Linked DNA regions of Homo sapiens. The protein of the gene in region 3 purifies or fractionates together with the protein of the main gene of each other region. This does not show direct contact. Each region holds a gene or a part of one and is shown on either strand. Other genes may lie near its edges.

The links.
Region 1: the proteins of SH3BP1 (region 3) and PACSIN1 purify together in Homo sapiens (co-immunoprecipitation; one large-scale study listed by IntAct). This does not show direct contact.
Region 2: the proteins of SH3BP1 (region 3) and HCK purify together in Homo sapiens (pull-down; one study listed by IntAct). This does not show direct contact.

What each region holds. Positions count from the first base shown.
Region 1 is NC_000006.12:34,464,576-34,468,175, reverse strand, and holds the start of PACSIN1 (protein kinase C and casein kinase substrate in neurons protein 1), read right to left. Parts: upstream 2,101-3,600; 5' UTR 1,906-2,100; intron 1-1,905. UniProt on the Homo sapiens protein: Plays a role in the reorganization of the microtubule cytoskeleton via its interaction with MAPT; this decreases microtubule stability and inhibits MAPT-induced microtubule polymerization.
Region 2 is NC_000020.11:32,058,555-32,062,272, forward strand, and holds part of HCK (tyrosine-protein kinase HCK), read left to right. Parts: intron 1-3,718. UniProt on the Homo sapiens protein: Non-receptor tyrosine-protein kinase found in hematopoietic cells that transmits signals from cell surface receptors and plays an important role in the regulation of innate immune responses, including neutrophil, monocyte, macrophage and mast cell functions, phagocytosis, cell survival and proliferation, cell adhesion and migration.
Region 3 is NC_000022.11:37,646,051-37,649,768, reverse strand, and holds part of SH3BP1 (SH3 domain-binding protein 1), read right to left. Parts: intron 2,952-3,718; coding exon 2,840-2,951; intron 2,503-2,839; coding exon 2,421-2,502; intron 2,329-2,420; coding exon 2,248-2,328; intron 1,451-2,247; coding exon 1,334-1,450; intron 1-1,333. UniProt on the Homo sapiens protein: GTPase activating protein (GAP) which specifically converts GTP-bound Rho-type GTPases including RAC1 and CDC42 in their inactive GDP-bound form.

The DNA.
Region 1 (3,600 bases), on a different chromosome or scaffold from region 3:
CCCTGAGAGCTTGCTATGAAGACCTTAGAGGCTGAGGAAGGCCTGGCTTGGGCCTTCCCAGCTTCCCTGATGTTGACCTGGATTTTCCCAAGGGCTGGGACAGAGGCAGAGACTCTGGTCTAAAGTTGGCACCCCGGGAAGAAAGTGCCAACCCAGCGGCCTGAGGAGAGCCAGACCTTCACATCAGGCCTTCCCTCAAGCCAGGACCAGGCCTGGACACTCAAACCAGGGGCCCATAAGACCCTCTGGAGCCAGCAGGTTGCAACACTATCTCCAAAAGGCATAGCTGCCCATCAACTCCAGGCTTAGGAAGGGCCTAGCCGGGCATGATGGCTCAGGCCTGTAATCCTAGCACTTTGAGAGGCCAAGGTGGGCAGATCACCTGAGGTCAGGAGTTCGAGACCAGCCTGACCAACATGGAGAAACCCCGTCTCTACTAAAAATATAAAATTAGCCGGGTGTGGTGGTGCATGCCTGTAATTCCAGCTACTCAGGAGGCTGAGGCAGGAGAATCGCTTGAACCCGGGAGGCAGAGGTTGCGGTGAGCTGAGATCGTGCCATTGCACTCCAGCCTGGGCAACAAGAGCGAAACTCTCTCTCAAAAAAAAAAAAAAAAAAAAAAGGAAGGGCCTACTAAAGAGAACCACCTGGTTTGAGTGGAGTGGCTCTTTGGTCCTGGGGAATAGAGAGAAAGCCCAAGAAGGGGCTCGACCCCCTCCCTCAGGTTGCCAGCTATTTCCCAGAGTTTACATTCACTCATTCAATAAGTCATGCATTCCACAAGATATTTTCTTGGTGCCAAACCCTGCTTTGGTGCAGGGGCAATGACAGAGATGAATCAGATTCCCAGCCTGAAGGTACTTCTGGTCTAGAAGGAGATGAACAAGACAAATAACCCAGCCACAAGGCAGTCCAAGAACATAGGGCAGGGGGCAAGGATCTCACCTGGGGTATCAGGGAAGCTGCTGGAGGGTGATGATTTGGACTTGTGATAGAAAGGCCAGGATGGAGGATGGAAGCAAAATCACTGACAGACAGTCCTGTTTGCACCCCAGCTGTGCCAGGGGCTGGGGCAATGTGGGTTATTTATGGTTGTGCCTAGAAATAAGCGGCCATATGTGTCACTGCCTATGTGGTGCAGACCTGGGCTGTTGTGGGTAGGGGCAGCTGGGGCTTGAAGCTGGGTCTGGCCAAGCTCCCGGGTTTGCCACCATGTCTCCTACACCCTGATGACCCTTTAACCTTTTCATAGCCTCTTGTAAGGTGAAAATAAGGGGCAGAGGCAGCTCCAACAGGCAGCAAGTGGCCTGGGGCTTGCAGGGGAGGGCAGTGCCCAGCAGCCCATGGCTTCTGTATCTGCGGGGCCTTTTAGCATTATCGCCTCCTTCTTGCCTCCTCCCCCCTCCCCGCTCCCATCCCAGCTGTGGGGGAAGGGGTAGGGGACAGAAGGAAATACCTTTAACCATAAGCCAGACAGGCATCAGCTGCTGTGTTTCTCCCCAGCCCACTCTGATCCATAAATAGCCTATGCACCAAGCTGGCACCAGCCCACCCACCCCTTCTGGTAGCAGTCCAGAGACCCGGACCGCCCGGGCCCAGGCCCCAGCTTCCCAAGGAACCTATTTCCGGCGCTTTTCCTGGGGTAAGGGCCTCCGATGCCAGCTCGCTCCCCCAAGGGACCCAGCGCAGTGGCATCCTGGCACTGCCTGGGTGATGCCCGCGAACTCCGTCCCCTGAAGGCATCCCCGAACGCGCACCCGCTTCTCTCCAGGCAACTGCCCAACCCTGCCCGGGCTCTGGCCCAGGGAGATGTCAGTCCCGGCGCCCACTTCCAACACGCACTCCCTAACTGGACACCCGCACACACAACCCCCCCGCCCTCTATTCAAGGGCCAGACCTCCTACCTGGGGGCAGGAGCTCCGGGGACCATCGGCGGCGACTCGGGGCGAAGCGGGACGTCTGGGGCCCGGCCTCAAGCCCGGCCGACTTCCCGGGGGAGGAGGGGGCTGGCGCTGCCGCCGCCACCGCGTCGCTCTGGGATCTCGCCGGGGCTGCGGGAAGGAGGAAGGTCAGAGCTGAGGCGGAGAGGGGGGAAGGATGAGGAGGAGGCGTGCACCGAGCAGAGCAGATTAGAGAGGCATTTTTAGCGAGCCAATGGTAGCGCGGGCAGGGCGGCGCGGTGGCTGCGCAGGTGGACGCGCCGCGGCTGCCGGGGAGGCAGCAACCAGTTTGGCAGGCGCCGGGGGTGGCGGGTGGCGGGTGGCGGGTGGGGTCCGGCTCCCCGCTGCTTCAGCCGACCCCTGCCCCAGCAGTCTTGCCTGGCTCCCTCTTCTGGGGGCTGCCCGCGGCCCCGCGCGTGCCGGGAGCCCTCCGGTGCGCCCTCCTCCCCAGCCCTCCCAGCTGGCGCGCTCGGAGCCCGGGATGTTGCTCCCTGCCTCTCTCCCCATCTCCCCATCGCCTTGGCCTTTCCTCCTCTCCCGAGCCTCGGCGTCCCTTGGTGCGTGCGGGTGCCTGTGTGGTGGGTGTGTTGAAGACGTGCGTGTGAGCTGACTTGGGAGCGACACCCCCTGCACCACCGCCCCACTGATGCCCACCCCTGCCCGCAGCTTCTGCCCTGTGACCCCATGGGGCGGGATCGCTAACCCTCATGTCCTAGTTCCAGCAGGACCGGCTGTCGCCAAAGCAAACTCCAGGCCATGTCGTTGGAGCTCTCTAGGGGGCTTGGGGCCTAATAGGGGACCCTCAACGGCCTTCACTCTTCCGAACTTGAGCCCTGAATGCTGCCTGGAGCCTGGACGCTGCAGGGAGGAGCGGGGCACATACCTATTGAAGGCCTGTTCTGTATCAGGCACTGATGAGGGGCTGGGCTGCAGCAGAGGACAGAACAGACCAAAACTCTGCCATCTCATAGTTCACATGTGTGAGGGAAGATAGATACTCAATATCAGCAGCTAAGAGTGTTTTGTTTGGTTTTTGTTGTTGTTGTTTTGTTTTGTTTTGAGACGGAGTTTCGCTCTTGTTGCCCAGGCTGGAGTGCAATGGCACGATCTCGGCTCACCACAACCTCCGCCTCCCGGGTTCAAGCGATTCTCCTGCCTCAGCCTCCCGAGTAGCTGGGACTACAGGCGCGAGTCACCACACCCAACTAATTTTGTATTTTTAGTAGAGATGGGGTTTCTCCATGTTGGTCAGGCTGGTCTCGAACTCCCGCCCTCAGGTGATCTGCCCGCCTTGGCCTCCCAAAGTGCTGAGATTACAGGCGTGAACCACTGCGCCGGGCCAAGAGTGTATTTTAAAGTGGTATGCACAGAGTAGAAAAATAAAGCGGGAGCCAAGAGCGGTGGCTCACGCCTGTAATCCCAGCACTTTGGGAGGCCGAGGCGGGCGGAACACGAGGTCAGGAGATCGAGACCATCCTGGCTAAAACGGTGGAACCCGGTCTCTACTAAAACAAAAAATTAGCCGGGCGTGGTCGCGGGCCCCTGTAGTCCCAGCTACTCTGGAGGCTGAGGCAGGAGAATGGCGTGAACCCGGTAGGCGGAGCTTGCAGTGAGCCGAGATGGCGCCACTGCACTCCAGCCTGGGCGACAGAGCGAAAC
Region 2 (3,718 bases), on a different chromosome or scaffold from region 3:
TGAGGAGGATACTACTCATGATTCCTGCAGCACAATTCCTTTTATGTCAAAACACACACACACACACACACACACACACACACACATACACACACTAGTCCATCATGGCGTATATGTCTTAGTTTGAGTTTCTCCAGAAGCAGACCCTAGGCAAGGTTTCAAATGCAAATAGTTTGAGAGCTGATTCCAGAGACCCTCCTAGGGGAGTAAGGAAGTGAGGCAGGGAACAGGAGGTAGTCATTAAAGGTGTCTTCTAAGCCCAGTTACCACTGCGGGCACCTGGAGCTCAATCCCACTGAGGAGCTCTGGGAGCCAGGGTAGAACAGGCTTGAGAGGTGAGGGAACCGGGGTATTTGTCCACCCTGTTCTCGCTCCTGTCTTTTGTTGAAAACTACTCCTGGGGATGTGATAATTCTCTAGCACTTTCGGCTTGCCAAGCCCATGGGCAGAGCAGGCACCAATAGCCACAGAGAAATCTCTCAGACAAAGAGATGAAGGTGCCGGCAGCTGGAAGTCCAGCCAGAATGTGCAGAAATGGTAAAGGGCAGAGTGATAGAGGCAGGGCACTGACAGCCTCTGCTTCAACATACATGTGTGTAAATGCAGAGGCAGAGGCTGAGGCCAAATGCTGGCAGAGGATATCTGGGTGGGGAAAGAGGTGGCCATGGAGGGCTTATAGAATGAGTAATCCAAGAGTGTCTTAAATGTATCTGTAATGTTTTAATCTTCCTTCCTTCCTTCCCTCCCTCCCTCCTTTCTTTTCTTTTCTTTCTTCTTTCCCTTCTTTCCTTCCCCCCTTCTCCTCCTCCTCTTCCTCCTCCTCCACTTTCTTCTTCTCTTCCTTCCTTTCTTCTTTCTCTCTCTCTCTTTCTTTCTTTTTTCTTTCTTTCTTTCTTTCTTCTTTCCCTTCCTCCTCCTCCTCCTTCTTCTTCTTTCTTGCTTCTCTCTCTCTCTCTCTTTTTTTTTTCTTTTTCTTTTTGAGACAGGGTCTCGCTCTGTCTCCCAGGCTGGAGTGCAGTGATGCTATCATGGCTCATGCAGCCCCAACCTCCTGCGCTCAAGCGATCCTCCCACCTCAGCCTCCTGAGTAGCTGGGATCACAGGCACATGCCACCACACCCAGCTAATAAAAAAAAATTCTGGTAGAAATGGGGTCTTGCCATGTTGCCCAGGCTGGTCTTAAATTCCTCGGCTCAAACGATCCTCCTGTCTTGACCTCTCAAAGTGCTGGTATTACAGATGTGAGCCACCATACCTGGCCTCTAATGGTTTAATTTTTAACAAGAAGGATGCACTAATGTTTTACTAGGTGGTAAAAGGTCATTTTAAAAATAAAATACATACCCTTCAAAAAATAAAAGAAACTGAGACCTGGAGCTTTGTCAATTATAAAAAAAATGTAAAAGGATCAGCGCCTGTGTTACTGAGGCTTTGAGGATTCCATTTGTGGAGGACAGGTTTGGGGGCAGCTGATCTCTCAGTACCACGGCAGGTTAAAGTGAAAAGTGGCCCTGGTGGTGAACTGGCCACCATGTCCTGTCTGGAGGGGGAAACTTCCACTCAGCGGCAGCCAAGGAAAGACTGCTCCTCTCCCAGCAGAAGCGAGCAAATGTGCATCACCCTTCTCAGTTTAAACATATATTTATAGCTATTGGTTTTCTTTTTGTTTGTTTGTTTTTGTTTTGAGACAGGATCTCACTCTGTTGCCCAGGCTGGAGTGCAGTGGGGCAATCTTGGCTCACTGCAACCTCTGCCTCTTGAGTTCAAGCAATTCTCCTGCCTTAGCCTCCCAAGTAGCTGGGATTACAGGCACCCACTACCACGCCCAGCTAATTTTTGTATTTTTGGTTGAGACAGGGTTTCACCATGTTGGCCAGGCTTGTCTCAAACTCCTGACATCAGGTGATCCGCCTGCTGACCTCAGGTGATCCGCCTGCCTCAGCTTCCCAAAGTGCTGGGATTGCAGGCATGAGCCATTGCACCTGGCCTATTTATAGCTATTGTTTAGACGGGAAATCTGGGGGCATCCAGCAGACTAAATGGGGACCTTACTGTCATATCTCATATCCTATTGGTCAGATGGATAATAAACAAATCAACAGGTAATACATTAGGTGCATTAGTCCAGGTCCTTTTTTATTTTTTCTTTTCTTTTTCATACTTAACTTCAGCATACCCTGAGATAGTTCAAGTCCTTTGAGAAGCAGACTCCCATAGCATTAAATGTGCAAGAAATTTATTGGAGGAAATGGCTATGAGAGAAAATGGGAAGAAACCAGGAGAGGACAGGAGAGCCATCAGATAGTGGGGTACCTCTGTCCACTAATGAAAAAGAAAAGGAAGGAAGAAAGGAAGGAAGAAGAAAGGAATAAAAGGAGGACGTGTCTTGGACTGCCATGCCGTATTTTTTTTTTGTAGTTGTTGTTCTGTTTTATTTTGTTTTTTTTGAGACAGAGTCTTGCTCTGTTGCCCAGGCTGGAGTGCAGTGGCGCAGTCTTGGCTCACTGCAACCTCCGCCTCCCGGGTTCAAGCAATTCTCCTTCCTCAGCCTCCTGAGTAGCTAGGATTACAAGCATGCGCCACCACGCCCAGCTAATTTTTGTATTTTTAGTAGAGACGGGGTTTCACCATGTTGGCCAGGCTGGTCTTGAACTCCTGACCTTGTGATTCGCCCGCCTTGGCCTCCCAAAGTGCTGGGATTACAGGCGTGAGCCACTGCGCCCAGCTGCCGTGCCATTCTAAGGAAAGTTTGTCAAGGCTGTTAAGGAGCCCTTGGCCAAAGTCTCTTGACAGAGGTCCCCCAGACATGGGTGGGCTTCGGTCTCCCTGCCACACTCAGTCATTGGCTGGGAGCAGCCCATGAGAGCAGTGATGGACTTCAGAGCACAGCAGCTGAGCCGCTGATCAATTTCTCCAGTCGTACTCCTGCAGTTGGAGATCTGAGAGGTGCATCCTCATGGCCACCACGTTTAAGAGGTGGTTAGGGGCATGAAGACTAGCTGGGAACAGGCTAGACAGTGATGGGAGTTGGGGGGCAGAGGATCCTGTCTTTGCCAGGGTGATGAGGGAAGGTTGCTCTGAGAAGGTACAATCATTAGAGAGACTGAAGGAAGTGATGGAGCCTTTCTGGGTGAAGAATATTCCAGAAACAGAACATGCAATGCCCCAGAGGTATAAGCACAGTTGGTGAGTTGAAGAAGAGCAAGGAGGGCTCCAGTGGAATGATCAAGGGAGAGTTAGAAGGAGACAGATCTGAGAGGCTGAGGAGGGGATCAGATTGTGGAGGTCTTACCCACCTTGGAGAGGACTTGGGCTTTTACTCCAAGTGAGACGGAAACCCTGGGTGGGGGTTGAGCAGAGAAGGAATGCGATCTGACTTACCTTTTTTTTTTTTTTTTTTTTTGAGACGGACTCTCACTCTGTTGCCCAGGCTGGACTGCAGTGGTGCGACCTCGGCTCCCTGCAACCTCTGACTCTGGGGTTCAAGCGATTCTCCTGCCTCAGCCTCCTAAGTAGCTGGGATTACAGGCATGCGCCACCATGCCCGCCTAATTTTTGTATTTTTAGTAGAGATGGGGTTTCACCATGTTGGTCAGGCTGGTCTCCAACTCCTGACCTCAGGTGATCTGCCCGCTTCAGCCTCCCAAAGTGCTGGGATTACAGGTGTGAGCCACCATGCCCAGGATGACTTACATTTTTAAAGGCTCACTTATTTGTA
Region 3 (3,718 bases):
TCTCTCACCCAGGCTGGGGTGCAGTGGCCCGATCTTGGCTCACCGCATCCTCCACCTCCCAGGTTCAAGAGATTCTCCTGCCTCAGCCTCCCGAGTAGCTGGGATTACAGGCGCGTACCACCACGCCCAGATAATTTTTGTATTTTTAGTAGAGACGGAGTTTCACCATGTTGGCCAGGCTGGTCTCGAACTCCCGACCTCAGGTGATCCACCCACCTCGGCCTCCCAAAGTGCTGGGATTACAGCTGTGAGCCGCTGCCCCCGGCCTATTTCTTCATTTTTAGAGACAGGGTCTCATTGTGTCACACAGGCTGGAATGCAGTGGCTCCATCATGGCTCACTGCAGCCTTGACTCCCTGGGCCCAAGCAGTCCTCCCATCTCAGCCTTCTGAGTAGCTGAGACTTCAGGTGTGCACCATGCCTGGCTAATCTTTTTAATTTTTTGTAGAGACAGGGTCTCATTAAGTTGCCCAGGCTGGTTTCAAACTCCTGAGTTCAAGTGATCTTCCCACCTTGGCCTCCCAAAGTGCTAGGATTACAGGCATGACACTGGACCTGGCTTGCACTTCACAGTTTCTAAAACATTTTCCAATTCATCATATCACTCACTCCCCAAAGCAAAAGCCCTCAAAGTTTGTATGATTTCTCCCCAATTTACAGATGAGGAAATCGAGGTTCTGAGGGTGTCTTCCTCAGGCCCATCTCTGGAAGGTGGAGGGGTGGAGCTATTAGTAGAACCTGATCGAGCCAGGCGCGGCAGCTCACACCTGGGGCGCGATGGCTCACACCTGTAATCCCAGCACTTTGGGAGGCCGAGGCTGGTGGATCACGAGCTGAGGAGATCGAGACCACCCTGGCTAACACGGTGAAACCCTGTCTCTACTAAAAATACAAAAAATTAGCCGGGAGTGGTGGTGCGCACCTGTAGTCCCAGCTACCTGGCAGGCTGAGGCAGAAGAATCGCTTGAACCCGGGAGGCGGAGGTTGCAGTGAGCCGAGATTGCGCCACTGTACTCCAGCCTGGGCAACAAGAGCAAGACTCCATCTCAAAAAAAAAAAAAAAAAAAAGAACCCGATCTCTGGGCTCCCAGCTCCCCCATGCCACTAAACACCTCATCACCACCACTGGCCAAAATGCCAGAATTGCCTCTCTCCAAAGCCCTGTGGCCTGCACAGCCCCTTTGGCCTGTTCCTCACGGCAGCCTCAAAAACAGGAGCTGCTCAACCCACTCCAAAAATGGGGACACCAAGGCCCCGGGGAAAAATAGACAACAGATAGTTGGGATGGGATCTGCCTTCCTCCTGCCACCTCCCCCAGCCCGCGGCCCCTCACCCTTCTTTCTCAGGTGGCCACAGCAAGTTGGGTCCCAGGACTATGGCGATGTTGCTGGGTGTCATCTTGTTCACCTCCTGCTCCTCGGCCAGCCGTGCCAGGAACTTCATCAGGTACCTAAGGGCGGAGGCAGGCTTAGGCCAGGGGCAGAACGCACCCAGCCCTGAGAATTCTCCAGCCCAGGGTTTCCAAAGAGTGTGAAAGACACCGCCCAGAATGGTCTTAACATTGTCACAGTTAAATCAGCTTATCCACTGAGTGCCAACCCTGCAGTGGGCACTGAGCCAAGCTGAGTCCTCAGCAGCCACCCTACAGGGTAGAGATTGTTACAGTCTGCATTTTCCAGATGATGACGCTGAGTGGCCTGCCCAGAGGTGGCATGTGAAGCCAGGCGGTATGGCTTCAAAAGTTCAAGGTCTCATTTATTTCAATGCTTCGCATAAAAATGTGTGACTAATCCGGCTGGGCGCAGTGCCTCACGCCTGTAATCCCAGCACTTTGGGAGGCTGAGGCGGGTGGATCACCTGAGGTCAGGAGTTCAAGACCAGCCTGACCAACATGGTAAAACCCCACCTTTACTAAAAATACAAAAATTAGCCGAGTGTGATGGCAGGCGCCTGTAGTCCTAGCTACTCGGGAGGCTGAGGCAGGAGAACTGCTTGAACCCAGGAGGCGGAGGTTGCAGTGAGCCAAGACTGCACCACTGCACTCCAGCTTGGGCGACAGAGTGAGACCCTGTCTCAGAAAAAAAAAAAAAATTATATATATAAATGACTAATCCATCAAAGCTGCATTTTCAGTAATATTTCTTAGGATACAGTGGCAAGGCCAGGCTCAAGCCCAGGGTCCCAGGGTCCGTGACCTCAGCTGGGCTCTGGCTCTGCGGCAGGCTGGGGAGGCGGGCTCGGGCTCACCTGAGGTTGCTGAGGTTCTCGGGGGGTAGGCGGCTGCACACCTCTTGGAGGGCCTGCAGCCGGGCCCCTGGCTCCTTCAGGCTGGGGGGGAGTGGAGAGACCTGTCAGCCAGCGCAGGGCTACACCTTTGCATCCTCCTCCTCCCCATCCCCTCCCTCCTCCAACATCCTCACCTGGCTGCCCTCATCCAGTCATCATAGAGGTCGAAGGTCATCAGAGGCTCTGGCAGCTCCCGCAGATAGGACTTGAGGGCACCTGAAGGAGGGGTGTGGGGAGGGTCAGAGGCAGCCCCCACCCGCTCTCCCACTCTCCCTGTAGAAGGAACCTCCGGCCCTTGTTCACACTAACGTGTCTAGGTCTGACAGTTTCTTTGGGCTGTAGGCCCTTTTGAGAAAATGAAGGCTAGCCATCTTGTCCCCAGAAAAATGCCAAACATTTTCGGGGGGCTCATGATGGACCCCACATTAAGAACCCGAGTGTCCTCAGTCTCAACAGAATATCAAGTCTTAAAGCCAGGCTATCTTGGGATCGTTTCAAGCCACTGCACCCCCTCCCCCCCAACCTCCTGCCCAGGGCTCCCCGGATCAGGCACCTGCCACAGCGTGCGGGTCGGAGCAGAACTCCTCCAGGCTGTGGGGGTCCGAGGCCATTGTCTGCTTGAGACGCTTCAGCACCGAGGCCCCAGCAGCCAGACGGAAGAGACCCTGGGTTCGAGAGGAGGCAGGCAAGGGTCACAGAGGGGTGGGCAGGGCAGGACACCCTGGCGCACTTGTAGCCTGGGGTGTGCCACTGGCCTTTGCTAGGCCTGTGTCCCCGCTGGTCTGGCTGGCAGTGTGGGCACCACGGTGTCCACGGGCTTCAACCTTCAAGGTCTAGAATTCTGAGCAAAGGGCAGGGCTGGGAAGTCTGGGAGGAGGCGGGAAAAATCATGGGGAAATGGAAGCCCAGTCAGAAGTGGAAGGGAGGGGCCGGGTGCAGTGGCTCACGCCTGTAATCCCAGCACTTTGGGAGGCCTGTGCAGGTGGATCACTTGAAGCCAGGGGTTTGAGACCAGCCTGGCCAACATGGTGAAATCCCATTTCTACTAAAATAAAAAAAATTAGCTGGGCATGGTGGTGGGCATCTGTAATCCCAGCTACTTGGGAGGCTGAGACACAATCGCTTGAACCAGGGAGGTGAAGGTTGCAGTGAGCCAGGATCGCACCACTGCACTACAGCCTGGGTGACAGAGCGAGATCCTGTCTCAAAAAAAAAAAAAGGGTCGGGCGCAGTGGCTCATGCCTGCAACCCCAGCACTTTGGGAGGCTGAGGCAGGTGGATCACCTGAGGTTAGGAGTTCAGGACTAGCCTGGCCAACATAATCTCATCTCTACTAAAAAATACAAAAATTAGCTGGGCGTGGTGGTGCATGCCTGTAGTCCCAGCTACTTGTGAAGTTGAGGCAGGAGAATCGCTTGAACCCAGGAGACAG